Regions from separate parts of the Homo sapiens genome. Here region 2 is linked to region 1. The links come from fine-mapping of genetic effects on gene expression. A gene starts in region 1. The other region holds a variant in brackets. All regions are shown on one strand. Distances are between the middles of the regions. Region 1 holds the start of ARPP19 (cAMP regulated phosphoprotein 19). Region 2 overlaps MYO5A (myosin VA).

What was found. PIP is the estimated chance that this variant, and not a neighbour inherited with it, causes the effect.
Region 2: its variant is the best candidate, but not a certain one, in a credible set for the expression of ARPP19 in lymphoblastoid cells (GEUVADIS, PIP 0.81).

What each region holds. Positions count from the first base shown.
Region 1 is chr15:52,567,048-52,572,423 of GRCh38, forward strand. It overlaps ARPP19 (cAMP regulated phosphoprotein 19), which reads right to left and starts at 1,983. Exons shown (of 3, transcript NM_006628.6): 1 at 1,801-1,983. The coding sequence starts at 1,845. RefSeq lists enhancers at 834-1,582, 1,583-2,329, 2,383-2,512 and silencers at 1,683-1,782, 1,853-1,912.
Region 2 is chr15:52,505,689-52,511,064 of GRCh38, forward strand. All of the region lies in intron 1 of MYO5A (myosin VA), which reads right to left. It also overlaps the pseudogene EEF1B2P1. Among named protein-coding and RNA genes, the nearest start is that of MYO5A, 21 kb to the right of the region's middle. The variant C/T (reference allele first, on the strand shown) is at 2,929.

The sequences.
Region 1 (5,376 bases):
CGAACTGATCTTCCAAATAGAAGAAACAGGTGATTTGGCCCACAGGAACACAGAAGTGACTGTGCACATTTTCTTCATGGTTAGGGACACCATCCACGCCACAGGCACTTAGCATTTACAGCCAATCCTCAATTTAAGAAGGAACATTATATTCCTAACACACTTTGGTTGATTTTAATGACAGCAGCTAAAACCAAAGCACCTTAAATGTTTAATGTAGACAATCAATAAGAGAAAACGTTCAAGCTATCCTTAATATTGTTAAAAGATACATTAGGCTTTTCCAAGTAAAAGTATTTACACTCTAGAAGTCAATACTGCATACTTTGGCAACATACTAACAGAACTTATCAAAGAAAATTACATAGCACACTACTGTGCACCAGAAGTTAATGCTAAGTTTGATGTAAGTGTTTAAGGCAAACCACCACAGACAGGGACTTGTTATTTTTGGGGGCTCCTAAATTTCAAGCAATAATGAACACAATACGCATTTTACAATAAGCAGGTGATACTTAATAATACTGTTAAGATTGCAAACTTTAATATTTGTATTTTTGCCCCCAAAATCCATTTTTTTGGTAATGCGTAAATATATCTATTTTCACGGGATATTCTCAAATAATGTGGTAACTTGGACTTTTACCTATGCTATATGTTTTCTTGTTTTTCAATTACTTTAACATCCTAACAGAAGCACCCAACTTAAGAAAAGTTAACACGGTTTTAAGAACATATGGAATGGGCTTAGAACACTAATCCAATTCCCAACTTAATTAGGACATAAGTGCAACATTAAGCAGAAACCCGCACGAAGGTCAAGCAGTAGACCAAAATCGTATTTAACGGCAACACAACCTGATTTGTAAGAAAAATTGTTGATAAACAATTTAGGAGACAAGATACCTCGGCCCTTTCTCACTTCTCGGCCAGTCACACCTGCCTAGGAGGGCAGGGCGGTGGAAATAATTACAGTGGGAGAGACAAACACCAGCCTAGATAAATACAAAGGCTTGATATTCATAATTTGAACCACAGTGACACTCCCGGCCTATTCCCCTACATCAGGAAGACACAAGGGCGTTTACAAAATATTCCTGTTTCCAATAAAACCCTGATTAATTTCGTGAGTAAAATTTTAAAATTCCACCCTTTCGATTTTTAGTCAAGTACCATATTTGAGTCCCATCGACTGAAACCTTTTTGAGCACAGACTGCGCTGCACACTACACCTGACTCACCTCCTCTAGGCCTCACCCCGCCGTGGGAGGCAAGCACCAGTATTCGGCCTTTACAGGTGAAGACACTGAAGGCCGGACTTTACTCACTGACCATGGTTACAAGGGTTGGCCCTGAAATGCCAATCCTGGCCCACATCGCGGCCCGCACACGAGGCACTGCTTTTGGAGTGAACCGCACGCTCACAATACAAGTAGTTGGAGAGTTCTTCAAAGGAAAAAATAAAACTTCCTAACCAAATTGAGGCTTACAGAAAAACTTAGGCTCTACGCCCAAAGCCTGCGTCCTGGGCTCTCGCGTAAATATAAGTGACTGAGGAACACCGCGACCCACGGAGGTGTTACAAAAGGCACGATTCGGAGTAAACGCGGGGCACGTTGGAACTCCCAATTCGTCGGCGCACCAGCCAGCGACGGCGGGAAGCCAAAGGTGGGGCGCAGGAGCCTCGGCCTCATGCGCCTCGGCCCCGCATCTCGGGCGCGGCCCTCCGCCTGGCGGGAGCAGGCCGCCCGCCAGACCCGGCCTTGGGCAGGGCCCAGGGCTCACGCCCCGCGCGCTCACCTTCTGCTCCTCCGCGGAGGCTGCCTCGGGGACTTCCGCAGACATAGTGCTCCCTCTGCAGACGAGACGCCGGGAAAAGATGCAATTAGCGGGTGGCCGAGGCCACCCGGCCGCCGCCCGTCCCAGCTCTCCCAGGGCCCGCCGGGCCGCCTCCGCCCGCGAAAATGGCCGCCGCCTTATGACGACACGGAGCCGCGAAACGCTCCGCTGGCCAAGGCCCTCGCACGCCGGAGCCCGCCTGCCCCTCCCGCACCGCACCCCTACCTACTTGACCCCGCTTCTCCCGCTCGCTGTCGTCCAAACACTTCCTTTTTTCCTTCAAAGGTCGCCGCTCCTGCCTCACCTCACATCCGTTTGTGGCTGCCGAGTGCTTCCTGGGAATTGTAGTTTCTAAGTGGAACCGCCCCTCCCCGCCCTTTCCTGTCCACTCTGGTCCCCTCGTTCTAGGAGCTTTATTTTACTCTTTCCACTTACCCATCCTCGCCTAGTTCTGTTCTCCTCGCTCTCCGCTCTGTAGCCACACAGGCTGTCTTTTGGGCACGCCAAAAGTCTTGCTCCACTCTGCCACGCCTTCACATCTCCAGTCCTACGTCTCTGCCTCAGAACCTTTCCTTCCTAAACCTCTACACTAGGCCAGAGCCACCTCTTAAAGGCTGTCACAGCCCTGTACAGTTCCTCAACAACATGAACTGTATCATTACACAATTGTCGTGACTTTAGGTCACCTTTCCTTCTCAGATAAGCCGCACCAGGGCAGGGATCTCGTCTGTAATTACTTATATTTTACTCTGAGGGTCCAGCACTTCCTAGATATCTAACGAAGGAATTCAGATTCATTTGTCCACTCCCAGGGGGTCCACTCCCACAAGCTTACCGAAACTGCTAGCATTGAGCTCCCCCAATGACCTTTTTATTTGCCAAGTCCTGCGGCTTCTTACTGAATCCTCATTCTACTTGATATCTGAATAGTTACTCGCAATGTTTGTTGGTTCCAACAAAGTGTCCCTCAGAAACTTGGAAATAAGATTGCCCTCTAAAAGTTAAACTAGTAAAAAGCCACAGAAAATGAATGCATTTCTGGGGGCAGGGGAACAATTGAAAGACCCTAAATGCCTGGATAAGGAATTTGGAAACCATCGAAACTCAACCAGGATGTAGAATCTCAGACAGGAAGAATTGCACTGGAATTGCAACTAGAAAAACAAAAAGAGTTAATATTGCACTCCTTTTGGAGAAACGAAGGAAGGCATTTGTCAGCCAAGGAAGTATTGAAAATAAAAGGGTTCAACAGGCCAACTGTTTGACAAAGATATCCCTTAAGAATGTCTCACGCTGGGCTAGCTGAGAAACTGTAAGATCCACGACATATTTGTTCTCCTTCTATACTCACAAAGTAACATACTGAAAATTTGCCTTTCCCTTAAGCAGAACTGCAGAGAGAAAGAAGAGTGCAGTAGTTAGGCCACTGAAGCATTTAACAGTTGTATTTTTATTAATAAATTGACTGACGTTCTAGTATATGTCCTATATCAATGTATTTGTGAACTTGAGTTAAAATCTGATAGACATACACTTAATGATGAAACTCAGCCTCAAGAAAATTGGCTGTGGCTGGGCACAGTGGCTCACTCGTAATCCCAGCACTTTGGGAGGCCAAGGCGGGCAAATCGCTCGAGCTCAGGAGTTCAAGACCAGCCTGGCCAACATGGCAAATCTCTGTCTCTACAAAAAGAAAAAAAACTTTTTTTTCTTTTTCTTTTTGAGACAGAGTCTCAACTCTGTCACCCAGGCTGGAGTGCAATGGCACAATCTCGGCTCACTGCAACCTCCACTTCCTGGGTTCAAGCAATTCTCCTGCCTCTGCCTCCCAAGTAGCTGGGATTACAGTTGCCCACCACCACACCCTGATAATTTTTTGTATTTTTAGTAGAGACAGGGTTTTGCCGTGTTGTCCAGGCTGGTCTCGAACTCCCGGCCTCAAGTGATCCACCCGCCTCGGCCTCCCAAAGTGCTGGGATTATAGGAGCGAGCCACCACATCTGGCCTTTTTTTTAAAATTGGCTATGTGACCTTGGATAAAAAGAATCTGTTTCTGATAGTGACACTCGCAGAAGGGGAAGTTTGAATTTCTGGGGGCAGACTTTGGTCAAATGGAGAATTCACCATGGGCAATGCTCCACAATGAGGACCTGTCTGGAAAGCCATTCTTTCCCAACTAACACCACTCTGCATCATTATGAACCTTAATGTGTAAAACTGCACACTGGTCCCCAGCACCCTGTTTGTCAAAACTTCCTTCTCTTGATCTCCAGGATACTATTGTCTCATGGATTTCCTCCTACTTAACCTCCCTGTTGAATCTTAACCTGCCTCTTAATGGGAGGATTCTAACAGTTCTGTCCTTGGATCTCCTTCTCTTCTATGTTTACACAGCCTCCAGGAAATAACTTCCACCTTCATAGTTTTTTTTCTTTTTTGAAACAAAGTGTCACTCTGCCACCCAGGCTGGGGTGCAGTGGCACCATCTCAGCTCACTGCAATCTGCCTTCTAGGTTCAAGTGATTCTCCTGCCTCAGCTTCCCAAGTAGCTGGGACCACAGGCACATGCCACCATGCCCGGCTAATTTTTGTATTTTTAATAATTGTAGGCCTGGCACGGTGGCTCACACCTGTAATCCCAGCACTTTGGGAGGCCGAGGCGGGTGGATCACTTGAGGTCAGGAGTTCGAGACCAGCCTGGCCAACGTGGTAAAACCATCTCTACTAAAAATACAAAAATCAGCTGGGCATGGTGGTGGGCACCTGTAATCCCAGCTACTTGGGAGGCTGAGGCAGGAGAATTGCTCAAACCTAGGAGATGGAGGTTGTAGTGAGCTGAGATCATATCACTGCACTCCAGCCTGGGCAACAAGAGCAAAACTGTTTCAAATAATAATAATAATAATTTGTAAAGACGGGGTGTTGCTATGTTGGCCAGGCTGGTCTCAAACTCCTGGCCTCAAGTGCTCGGCCTGCCTCGGCCTCCCAAAGTGCTAGGATTACAGACTTGAGCCACTGCGCCCGGTGGACATTCATAGTCTAAACTGCCATCTAGGGATACCTTGTTTTTTGGGGCTTCATTTTATTGTACTTCTAGATACTGCATTTTTCACAAATTGAAGGTTTGTGGCAATCCTGCATCCAGCCTCTATAGGCGCCATTTCTCCAACACCATGTGCTTACTTTGTGATCGTGTGTAACATTTGGGTAATTCTTGCAATATTTCAAACGTTTTCATTATTATTATATCTATTATAGTGATCTGTAATCAGTTATCTTTGACATTACTATTGTAATTTTGGGGGAGTACCACAAACCACTCCCACATAAGACAGTGAACTTAACCAATAAATGTGTATGCTCTGACTGCTGTACCAACCAGCATTCCCCTGTCTCTCTCTCCTTGGGCTTCCCTATACCCTGAGACACAACGATATTGAAATTAGGCCAAATTATAACCCTACAATGGCCTCTAAGTGTTCAAGTGAAAGGAAGAGTTGCATATCTCTTCCTTTAAATCAAAAGCTAGAAATGGCC
Region 2 (5,376 bases), 61 kb before region 1:
CGTCTTAGTCTGGGACTCATCTAAACTAGTTCCAGTGGGATACAGAATTAAGAAACTTCAAATACAGTGTGTAGTTGAGGATGATAAAGTTGGAACAGATATGCTGGAGGAGCAGATCACTGCGTTTGAGGACTATGTGCAGCCCATGGATGTGGCTGCTTTCAACAAGATCTAAAATCCATCCTGGATCATGGCATTTAAATAAAAGCTTGAAAGATTAAAAAAAAAATTTTTCAGACTCTTGGCTGGGCGCAGTGGCTCATACCTGTAATCCCATCACTTTGGGAGGCTGAGGAGGGCAGATATCTTGAGGTCAGGAGTTCGAGACCAGCCTGGCCAATATGGCAAAACCCTCTCTCTACTAAAAAAATATGAAAATTAGGCCGGGCGCTGTGGCTCATGCCTGTAATCCCAGCACTTTAGGAGGCCGAGGCAGGCAGATCACGAGGTCAGGAGATCGAGACCATCTTGGCTAACGCAGTGAAACCCCGTCTCTACTAAAAATACAAAAAATTAGCCGGGCATGGTGGCAGGCACCTGTAGTCCCACCTACTTGGGAGGCTGAGGCAGGAGAATGACGTGAACCCGGGAGGCTGAGCTTGCAGTAAGCCAAGACTGCGCCGCTGCACTCCAGCCTGGGTGACAGAGCGAGACTCTGTCTCAAAAAAATAATAATAATAAAATGAAAATTAGCTGGGCGTGGTGGCACACACCTGTAATCCCAGCTACTCAGGTGGCTGAGGCGTGGGAATCACTTGAACCTGGGAAGTGGAGGTTACAGTTAGCCGAGATCGCGCCATTGTACTCCAGCCTGGGCAACAGAGTGAGACCCTTTCTCAAAAAAAAAAAAAAAAAATTCAGTCCCTTGGCCAGATGCAGTGGCTCATGCTTGTAATCCAGCAATTTGGGAGGACAAGGAGGGCGGATCTCTTGAGGTCAGGAGTTCAACACCAGCCTGGCCAACATGGTGAAACCCTGACTCTACTAAAAATACAAAATTAGCCGGCGTGGTTGCCTGCACCTGTAATCCCAGATACACAGGTGGCTGAGGTGTGACAATCACTTGAACCCGAGAGGGGGAGGTGGCAGTGAGCCGAGATTGTGCCACTGCACTCCAGCCTGGGCTATAGAATGAAACGCTGTCTCAAAATAAAAAAAAGAATTCAGATTCTGTCTTTCTGCTCTACCTTCTTAGCTTGTTAACTTTTCATTCTGAGGCTTGTCACCTTATGATTACAATTTGGCTGCCAAAGACTCCATATATCACATTACATACTTAAGGATGGAAGAAAGAGAGTATATATACAAACAAATGTTTCTATTCCTTTTATGAGAGAAGCTACTTTTTTTTCCCCCTGTAGAGGTCTTCCAGAAGATTTCTGGTTATATCACATTAGCCAGAACTAAATCACACAGCTGGCCCTAACTGCAAGGGAAGTTAGAAAAAGGCATATTTGTCTTCGAACCTCTATAACAGAAGGAGAAATGGGTTTGGAACTGACTTTAGGATTCAAGCAACAGTTTATGACACATGTCTATATTACACATAAAATGCTAATTATGCTAGTTAATTACAACTGGGTGCAGTACCTTTAAAAGCCCTCGTTTAGAATACAGTTCTCCTTTCCAGCAGAAAACTGGTTAAGAATGTTGATGATGGAAACATTAAAAAGGGACTGGAATGAAAGTTACAGCTTTGTCAGATGGTGCTGACATTGCTGAGTTGTAGACAGATTACAATCGAAAGAGTATCCATAGCCAAATCCTAACTAGAATGAAGGGAAAATTTTAATAGTGTACATAGCTGATGTCCTAAAACGTTCCAGAAGCTTTAAGAGTGTGATAAGGGCCTGGTACAGGGACTCACACCTGTAATCCCAGCACTTTGGGAGGCCAAGGCAGGAGGATCACTTTAGCCTAGGAGCAGACCAGCCTGAGCAACATGGCAAAACCCCAACTCTACAAAAAAATACAAAAATCAGCAGGGCATAGTGGCATGCACCTGTAGTCCCAGCCGAAGTGGGAGGATCACTTGAGCCTGAGAGGTCGAGGCTGCAGTGAGCCATGATCCCACCACTACACTCTAGCCTGAGCAACAGAATGAGACCCTGTCCCCAAAAAAAAAAAAAAAAAGTGTAATAACTAGAGATCTATCTAGGGCTACCACTTTTTTAAAATAAGAAAATAGATTTTTATAAATTATTTAAAATAGACAAGCCAATAATGCTACCTAAGAGTTAACATTAAGGGACTCTATTATGATATGCCAAGTACTGGGCTTTACATATATATGTATGTATCTAATCTCTCAACTGCCCTATCAGGAAAGTACATTCACTAACTTGCTTATGGTCACACAAGGAGAAGCTCAACCTAACTCTAGAGATGATGCCCTTAACCATATTACGTTACTGTTTGTTATTTTATTTGTTCTCCTTGGTGTTTCTTATTCATTTTATGTATTTGTTATTTAATCATTCAAATTTGTAAAGTTTAACTCTTGTTTATAAATTGTAAATTGTCTTTCTCTATTTTCTTTTCATAGTATTTCTGGTTCACACAAGTCCTAAAATGGCAAAGCTGTTTCAATCATATCTTTCAAAAACTTAGAATCAGATAATCCAAGTGGATTTTGTAGCTAGTTTTATGAAAACTTTGATAAAATTACAACAAACATTGTTAGGGTTTTATAAGGAAAAAAAAAAAAAGTAGAACTAACCTGACAAAACAAACCACCAAAAAAGGCATCACAACACACAATGTACAAACAACAAAAGTAGAAACATAAATATACATCTATATTAGTCCTATGTGTTCTAAATCCCTCCTTTGTTTCATCTACTGTGAGTTTGCTACCTCCATAGCACACTGGCCAAGATTACTTGTAGGCATACCATTGGTTCCCTGAATTATTGGGCTATTATTCCC[C/T]GCCTCACCCCCACCCCCTGCCAAAACATTAACCCTGTTTACTCCACACATAGCTGGTAACACACATGTGGTTAATTATACCCAAATCTCTAGTCTCAAACTACTGTACTTAGCTTTTTATTTTAGGTTTTTATGCTTCCCTTTTTCTTTTACTGTCTTTTTCTTTACCTCTTTATTATTATGTTCCCAGAAATTTAGCTCCTGAACATACATAAGATCCTTGCATATTTTCAACAATACAATGAAATCCGTACCTTCTTATCTACCAAAAAAAACGTAAGCCGTATGTTATACGTTATTTTCTCCTATTCTCTTCTCATGTGTTATTAAAATTGGAAGTGGATTCAACTTTTTTTGTAATTTTTTTTTTTTTGAGACAGAGTCTTGCTCTATCACCCAGGCTGGAGTGCAATGGTTTGATCGTGGCTCACTGCAGCCTCAACCTCTCGGGCTCAAGTGATCTTCCTACCTCAGCCTCCTGAGTAACTGGGACTATGGGCATGTGCCACCACACCCAGCTAATATTTTAATTTTTTGTAGAGACGGAGTCTCACCATGTTGCCCTGGCTTGGATTGAACTCCTGGGCTCAAGCAATCCACTTGCTTCAGCCTCCCAAAGTGTTGGGATTACAGGCATTAGACCTAGCACCTGGCCAGATTAAACTCTTTTTTAGTTTACTCAAAGGCAGCATCCTCATATTGGGTTGGAAAACCAAGATGATCACATATAAGAAAGGATCTTCCTACTTGTCTCTCTACCTGTTTTTCCCAACTCTGGCTAATCTCTGTTTAATAATGCATCTTTCTTTAACTATTTGGAAGAAAAACAAAAACAAAAAAACTCCATGACAGCATGATCAGCTGACAGACAGCATGATTAATGAAGAAAACAGTGATGGGAACATATAAGCCTCTTCTCTCCCTCCAATAACCTGGCAGACAACCCCACCTGGGATTTGTCCCATACTTGTAACACACAAATGTTTGCTTGCTAGGTCAACTGTATTTAAACTAAAATATGACAGCTGTAAATAAGCCAATAAAATAGGGGCCATTTTTAGATTCTGACAAGCCAAAGATCAGGCACTGCTCTCTTGAAAACTGTCACCAAAGGCAAAGAGAGAGCAGCCTCAAGAGGAAATAAGAGAAAATCACTACATGGCCTGAATGATTCACGTTGAAATCAGAGGCATCAGATGAGGACTTAAGATGGATCAATAGCTTAAAAAGGTCTCAAGTGAACAATCTGTGCCATTCTCCTTCTCTAATCTCTTGGAGAAAAAAAAAAAGAGCACAAAAAAGCTCTAAGGTCTTTTAATGAGACTATTATTCCATTAATTATTTGAGGCAGTTTTTGTTTCACTAGAATTAATTAACATAACCCTTCTACTTTCAGCTCCAGCTGCATCTGATGTCACTGCTATGGCAGTGAAGAATGAAAACCAAAGGACAACTGGCTACTTAAGGAATTAAGCGGACTAAAATGAAAACCATTCACAGAAGCAGTTCCAGTACTCTGGCTGAGACTCTGTTTTCCTACATACAGCCCACACATTCTGAATATACTCAAATCTACGCAATTTCAAACTTAGAAAACTTTAACTGCTGCCCCACTGAAGCCATTTTCAAGCTGGAATCATGTATAATAAACTACTCCATCTATTTCACCAATATATACATTTTAAAATAATTAATTTAGCCTCTACTCATTCAGATCTATTAAATTTCACCACTATGACAGTTATCTTAGAAAATCCTCTTAAACATAGCCAACAGATAAATCAAATAAGAATTTTTGGAAATCTTTAACCTTAAGGACAATATTAAGAATCTAGGTCAAGGGTCCCCCATCCCCGGGCTATGGACCAGTACCAGTCCCTGGCCTGTTAGGAACCGGGCCTCACAGCAGGAGGTGAGTGGTGAGCTAGCGAGCAATACCACCTGAGCTCCGTCTCCTGTCAGATCAGCAGTGGCATTAGATTCTCATAGGAGCATGAACCCTATTATGAACTGCACAGGCGAAGGATCTAGGTTGCATGCTTCTCATGAGAATCTAACTAATGCCTGATTATCTAAGGTGAAACAGTTTCACCCCAAAACCAACCATCACCATCGCCACACCTGCTCCCCAGGTCTGTGGAAAAACTGTCTTCCATGAAACTGGTCCCTGGGGCCAAAAAGGTTGGGGACCGCTGACCTAAGTCTAATGTATAGAATGGCACAGATTACAAATGAGTCTTACAGATTTGTGAAACAGTCACTGACTTTCATTTAATTGTACCCATCACTTTGATTTTTTGTGAACTCAAATGAGACATCCTAATCCTCAATCTAACCAGCTAAGCTGTACTATACAGGTTTTGTCTAGATCCTCCTTAAACACACCCTAGTGGAGGCCCCAGCTCCAAAAGACAAATTGGACCTCAATGACTCCCACAGGCAGTGACT